Linked DNA regions of Homo sapiens. The protein of the gene in region 1 purifies or fractionates together with the protein of each later gene. This does not show direct contact. Each region holds a gene or a part of one and is shown on either strand. Other genes may lie near its edges.

Region 1 (3,443 bases):
GTGAGAGGGTGGCTTGAGCCCGGGAGGCAGAGGTTGCAGTGAGCCATGATTGCACCACTGCACTCTAACTTGGGCAACAAAGCAAGACCCCATCTCAAAAAAAAAAAAAAAGTCTCACAGTGGGCCAGGCGTGGTGGTTCACACCTGTAATCCCAACACTTTGGGAGGCTTTGGGAGGCTGAGGTGGGAGGATTGCTTGAGCCAAGGAATTCGAGAAAAGCCTGGGCAACATGGTGAAACCCTGTCTCTACCAAAAACACACAAAGAAATTAGCTGGGCATGGTGGCATGCACTTGTAGTTCAGCTAAGGTGGGAGGATCACTTGAGCCCAGGAGGTGGAGGCTGCAATGAGCTGAGATAGTGCCTCTGCACTCCAGCCTGCGTGACAAAGTGAGACCCTCTCTCAAAAAAAAAAAAAAGAACCTCCCATAAAGATTTATTGACAATAAACATTTCTATTATATACCACACACTGTGTCTACATATTAGGAATATAAGAACAAATTTTCTCTTATATTTACCCTGAAGAAAACTATTCCTAGTCTCAATATTAAGAATGAAAGGAGGGAGAATAAAAGAACGATAAGTATATTTTTGCAGGATAGATCTCACCATTGATTAGGGATAACATAATAGATATATTTTACAAAAATATTTATACAGTAATATATTTATATCAAATGTGACTTATGTTTAATTTGTGAAAAATCCTCACTTTCTGGAATGGTGTTAATTATACTATAAAAGAATGCCAATTTTTTTTTCTTTCACTACAACTTGAAGCCTATGGGATTTAAGTTAAAGTTGGACAAAAATGACAAGAAATAGTACAATACAAAAATACTGACTCTTGCTTCCATAGTGGTATGAGATATTAAGTCATATACACATCTAAATGTAGTAACAGAGGAATAATATGAGAGCCCTTCTAGTGTCTTGAGTACCTGGTTCTTCTCCTCGTATTCTTTGATTTTGAACAATCTCCAGAAGCTGCTGGGCTGCTTGGTTTACACTCATATACCGTGGAGGTTCATAGATCTTCCTTCCCCTATAGGCAGAAAACTAGATGCCACTGTTCTTAGCCATGAAACTACATAATATGTTATTAATGCAATTAGCTCTCCCAGGTATACTCAAGTACCACAGTCTACATTCTGTTTGATGTTTTTTTACATGTACTCACTTTAAGCATACACAAAAGCATGATGATTGTTCATTTCTTAAGCTTTTTCATTGTTCTAATTTAACTTTCCTCTGATCTCACTGAAATGATGGCAGGAACACATAAAGATAGATGTCTAAATGAAAGTTATCTTTATTCAAAGTGATACCTTTGGTAAAAACAATTCAAAGTAAGTGGCAATTTGGTCTATACTCTAGCTTAATCAGGTTATTTAGTGTCCTTTTTATGACCATTTTTAAACCACATATTCTTTTCACTGTTTCCTCTAAGAAAAGTAAACTAAAGCATCTTGGATGCTTAAAAATCTCAGGTGATGGCATACGTTTATTTCTGTATGCCTCAAAAGCCTATCAGGCTTGCCGAACTATCATATTAACAAAAATATAGCCATTGCAGGCCAGGCGTGGTGGCTCATGCCTGTAATCCCAGCACTTTGGGAGGCAGAGGCGGGTGGATCACAAAGTCAGGAGTTTGAGACCAGCCTGACCAACATGGTGAAACTCCGTCTCTACTAAAAATAAAAAAAATTAGCGTGGCTTGGTGGCGCACGCCTGTAATCCCAGCTACTCAGAAGACTGAGACAGGAGAATCAATTGAACCCGGGAGACGGAGGTTGCAGCGAGCTGAGATGACACCACTGCACTCCAGCCTGGGCGACAGAGCAAGACTCTGTCGAAAATATAAATATATATATATATATATATATATATATATATATATATAGCTATTGTGGCTTACAACACAGTTCAAATAGATTATTTTACTGACTCTCAAAAAAATTCTGTCAGTGCTATCCAATAGAAATATAAATGAAGCCATATATAGAATCAAGTTTTCTAGTAGCCATATTAACAAAAAAGTTTGTAAAAAGGCAATTTTTTTTTTTAAGACAGTCTCACTCTGTTGCCCAGGCTGCAGTACAGTGGCGTGATATTGGTTCACTGCAACCTCTGCCTCCTGGGTTCAAGCAATTCTCTGCCTCAGCCTCCCGAGTAGCTGGGATTACAGGTGCCTGCCACCATGCCTGGCTAATTTTTTTTGTATTTTTAGTACAGACGGGGTTTCACCATCTTGGCCAGGCTGGTCTCGAACTGCTGACCTCGTGATCCACCTGCCTCGGCCTCCCAAAGTACTGGGATTACAGGCATGAGCCACCACGCCCAGCCAAAAAAGGCAAAAATTTTAATATTTTAATTAATCCAAAATGTTGTAATTTAACACCTACTCATATAAAAATTATTAAAGAGATTGTTTTTATATTAAGTCTTTGAAATCTGATATGTTCTTACAGCACACCTTAATTTGGATATTAAATTTTCATTGGAAATAGTTGATCTGTATTTAACTTTCATAAAATTTATGGTTTTAACAGTTGATTTATATACTAAAGCTGTTCCAAACATACTTAAAAGTTTTCCAATAACAGAGTATCATTTTTTAATTAATTAAAATTAAATGAAAAATTCAGTTCCTCAGTCACATTAGCCACATTTCAAATGCTCCTTAGTCACAAGTGGGTAGGGGGTACTGTATTAGACACTGCCTCTCTAAGTAAAAAAGGATTAGTACTATCATTATACATCTGAAGAAAATAAGGCTCAGAGATGGAAGTAACTTGCCCAAGAGCACTCAACTAGAGGCAGACTCAGGACTCAAACCCATGCCTTTTTTTTTTTTTTCTCACTCTGTTACCCAGGCTGGAGTGCAGTGGCGTGATCTCAGCTCACTGCAACCTCTGCCTCCCAGATTCAAGCGATTCTCGTGCCTCAACCTCCCAAGTAGCTGAGATTAAAGGCACGTGCCACCACACCCAGCTAATTTTTCCATTTTTAGTAGAGACGTGGTTTCACCATGTTGGCCAGGCTGGTTTTGAACTCCTGGCCTCAAACAATCCACCTGCCTCAGCCTCCCAAAGTGCTGGGACTACAGGCATGAACAACCGCACCCGGCCTCACACCCATGTTTTCAGAATCCCAACGCATTAATTCATTCCACAAACACTGAGTGTCTGTTAGATGCCAACCACTGTTCTCAGTGTTGAATCCACAAAATATATTGCTATTTCTACTCTATTATACTGCTTATCATTTCGTAAGAATAAAAATGCTTAATGTTCACACTGTTAATGAGAGCTCATTTTCAACCATCTTTAGAACTCAGGTCATTTAAGTAGAATGTATTGAATTGTTCAAGGAAATAAAACACATGTATGCATTCTCAGAATAATAACTTACTTGATTAGATTTTCCAAAGACTGCTC
Region 2 (3,805 bases), on another chromosome or scaffold:
AGGAATCTCAAAATAAAGTTATGAAAAGAATCAAGTGTTTCTTATTGCAGTTGGTCAAAGAAAAAGAAATGAAAAAAATGAAAAGAAATAGAGCAGAAGGAGAAACTGAAATAAAAGACAAGTCTCAAACTTAAGAACTGCAAAAGAAAAGTCAATTAACAGGGAGACTACATTTTATTTAACAGGATTTACTTTCTAGCTATTAGACTTCTGCTTGTAAGAAATTTATTAACCTCTTCTAGCTATTTTTTAAAAACCAAGAAAATACAGTATCTGGTTTTATATCTGCCTGAAGGGAAATGATACTCTACATTTATTATAAATGAAAAGTTTGCCCTAAGTACATTACCTTAATTTATAAATAAAATGTAGAATGTCATCTGTCTTCCATTTCCATTAATTTTTCCCAAATTATCACAAGTTATTTTTGTCTCAAGAAGCATTATTAGCACGCACACACACACACACACACAAGGGTACCCTGGGAGTCTCTAGATACTATTTCACAGTAAAAGAAGCCAGACTTTCATCTTTGAAGAAACATTTGATTTCAGATATGGGTTATAAACTATACATGTGATTCTGGAACACCTGAATGCTGTGTTGCACCAGAAATCAAGGATGCTTTCAAAGACCAGGAGAGTCACGTCAAAACAACATAGGAACCATTCTGAAGGGGCTCCCATTGAATAAATTTAGGGCAATATGAGGATTTCAAAAAAAAGAAAGGGCAGGCGCTCATGCTCATTCCTATAAGGGAGGCAGTAGGATCGTTTGAGACAAGCCTGAAAAAACAGTGAGATTGACTCTACAAAAAATTAAAAAATAGAAATGAGACAGGTGTGGCAGCATGCTGAGGTGGTAAGATCACTGGAGCACACAACCTCAAGGTTCCAGTGACCTATGATCATACCATTGAACTCCAGCTCTGAGAGACAGAGTGAGACCTTGTCTCTTTAAAAAAAAAAAAAAAAAAGGAAAAGAAATGAAGGGAGAGGAGGAGAGAAGAAGAAAACAAAAGAAAATACAGTAAATGATACAATACTTATACTTCAGGAGATCACAATGATAATCACAAAGAGAGACACCACCTGTACATGTAAGCTAATTTTCACCACTGGAAATGATTCCTAGATCAACTCTTTACTCTAAAAATATTTGCTAAAAGAATTAATAATTTATGCATAGGCCAGGGGAGGTGGCTCACGCCTGTAATCCCAACACTTTGGGAGGCCAAGGCAGGAGGATTGCTTGAGCTCAGGAGTTCAAGACCAGCCTGAGTAACATGGAGACCCCATCTCTACAAAGAAATTAAAAAATTAGCTGGGCATGGTGGCACATACTTGTGGTCCCAGCTACTCAGGAGGCTGAGGCAGGAGGATCATTTGAGCCCAGGAGTTTGAGGCTGCAGTGAGCTATGAAGCCATACCGCACTCCAGCCCAAACAACACGGCAAGATCATGTCTAAAATTAATTAATTAAAAGAATGTATGCAGGCGAGCATTTCAGGAAAGCTACATAACCCCTAGTTAATAATGAAAAGCTCTTCTTTAAGAATGACAGCTAGTAAATGTAGAATAGAAATAGAAAATTCACCATTTTGTAACCCTGAATAAAATAATTAATTTATGGGCAAGAATTATCAACAGATGCTAAAGCCAGAAAAAAAAAGAGGTAACAGGAACTCAGTACTTGCATATTATTATAGTATTAAGCCACAGATTGCTTGCTGGTCAGAAGGAAAAAAAATCATAACATTACAATGGAGGAATCTGACTATCACTATGTTAACAAGTGAAACAGTCAGACATTACTTGTCTCTTGATATAATAAAAAGTACATGGCATCATCTCTGAAATATTCTGGCAAGAAAAATTTAACCTAAATGTAACCAAACCTTTAGATCAACTTTCCAGTTTAGAGGAAACACAATGAATTAAGAAGCTAGTTAAATGGCATCATGAGGAAACAATTAGATAGATTTAGAAGGTGGAGTATTCTACAAGATAAATGCACTAGTTGTCTAAGGAAGTTGGTATCATAACCAATAAAAGAAAAAAGAAGGGGACTATTATTAAATAAAAGACTAAAAAGGTATAATATTCCCATTTAATGAGTGGTCTCCAATTGAATACCTGTTTGAACAAGGCATAAAAGACACTTTTGGGACAAATGAGGAAATCTGAACACAGTAATCCCCCCCTTATCCATAGTTTCCCTTTCAAAGTTTTCATCTGCCCACAGTTAATCGCTATCCAAAAACAGGTTGGTGGAGTAGAATTAGATAACTTTAAGAAAGAGACTACATTCACACAACTTTTATTACAGTATATTATTATAATTGGTCTATTTTATTATTAATTATTGTTAATCTCTTACTGTGCCTAATTTATAAATTAAACTCTATCATAGGTATGTATGTATAGGAAAAAACAATACACATAGAGTTTGGTACTATTGTGGGTTGTTTCAAAAATCCACTGGGGGTCTTGGAATGTATCCCCATGGATAAGAGCAGAATACTGTGTAGACTGTATGTTTTATAGGTATGGTAACAACATTTTCATTATGTAGAAAAATATTCCTGTGTGTGAGAGATGCACACTGAAGTATTTAGTATTTGGTGATGACTTTTTAAAAGTCAAGATAACCACTACAAAAATAAAGGTCCTCCTCTATAAAAATAAAGCAAAGAAATGCCTTTTTTAAATATAATGGAATAAACATTTAAAAGATTTTTCCTACACAAAAGAGAATAAATTAACTTAACAGTCTAAGTCTAACAATTTCCACAATGACCACATATTAAAAAGACAAAAAAAAAAAGAATTTTTTTCCTAATGTGGTGCTAAGTTTGGATTCCATACTGTGGAAACACCAACAAATTTTTTTTAAAAGAGGGACTGAAACAATAATAACTGAGGGGAAAAAAAAATACACTGGCAGGCAGGATGTAGCTTACCTTTTTTGATATCATTCCAGCACCTGCAGCACGTTTTATATCTTGGACTATGCTGCATTCCATCACAATAAACTCCTCTAGCTGTTTGGGATGACATAAACTATTGAAAGGGTGACTCCAGAAAGTGCTCCCATCAATATCTGCCACTAAAAATAAGGATAGAACACAAAAACATAAGAAAAATTATATATTTCAATTATCAAATGTATTAACTAAGAATAAACTGGTAGATACCAACTGGGAAGTGGCAGGTCAACAGAACTAGTGTCAACTCACTCCTTAGGGTCATCAATTACTCCTATAAACCAATCCCAAACTTCTCAAAGCACAAGAAAAATATATCAGATGTCAAACATATCTTAAATAGTTACTATAACCAGAATGCCACAGGGCTAAGTGCCTCTTAAGTAAGATCAGAGCCAATCAGTGGTACAGCTGTTTCACGTGCTGGCACTTTATTTTAGAAACGTATCTGTCACCTTAGCTGCTTAGTTTATGGGAAATAAAGCCTAGTTCTACCAGATAGGTAAAGAATGTCCATCCCAATATTGCTAACAGATCTTTAACTTATGAATCCTAACTGATAAAGATAATGAATGACTTTGAAAAATATCAAAATAAACTCACTTTTTGTATAAAGGAAACTTATATTACAGAAAATACATGAAAAAGATCAAGCAGAAGATACATCCAAATACTAAGATACCTACCAAAATGTGGTCTTCCTTAAAAAATAATTTATTCTATAGACAATGTTAAAAAATGATCTACAGTAATAACAAAATTGGTTAAAATTCATATTCAAACTAAATGTTCCAATGGGCCACAAAAAGCCAAATGTTC

The links. Proteins that work in one complex are often made in the same cells at the same time.
Region 2: the proteins of DPH5 (region 1) and NMD3 fractionate together in Homo sapiens (co-fractionation; one large-scale study listed by BioGRID). This does not show direct contact.

The regions. Positions count from the first base shown.
Region 1 is NC_000001.11:100,991,693-100,995,135, forward strand, and holds part of DPH5 (diphthine methyl ester synthase), read right to left. Parts: coding exon 3,418-3,443; intron 1,049-3,417; coding exon 945-1,048; intron 1-944. UniProt on the Homo sapiens protein: S-adenosyl-L-methionine-dependent methyltransferase that catalyzes four methylations of the modified target histidine residue in translation elongation factor 2 (EF-2), to form an intermediate called diphthine methyl ester.
Region 2 is NC_000003.12:161,241,811-161,245,615, reverse strand, and holds part of NMD3 (60S ribosomal export protein NMD3), read right to left. Parts: intron 3,109-3,805; coding exon 2,963-3,108; intron 1-2,962. UniProt on the Homo sapiens protein: Acts as an adapter for the XPO1/CRM1-mediated export of the 60S ribosomal subunit.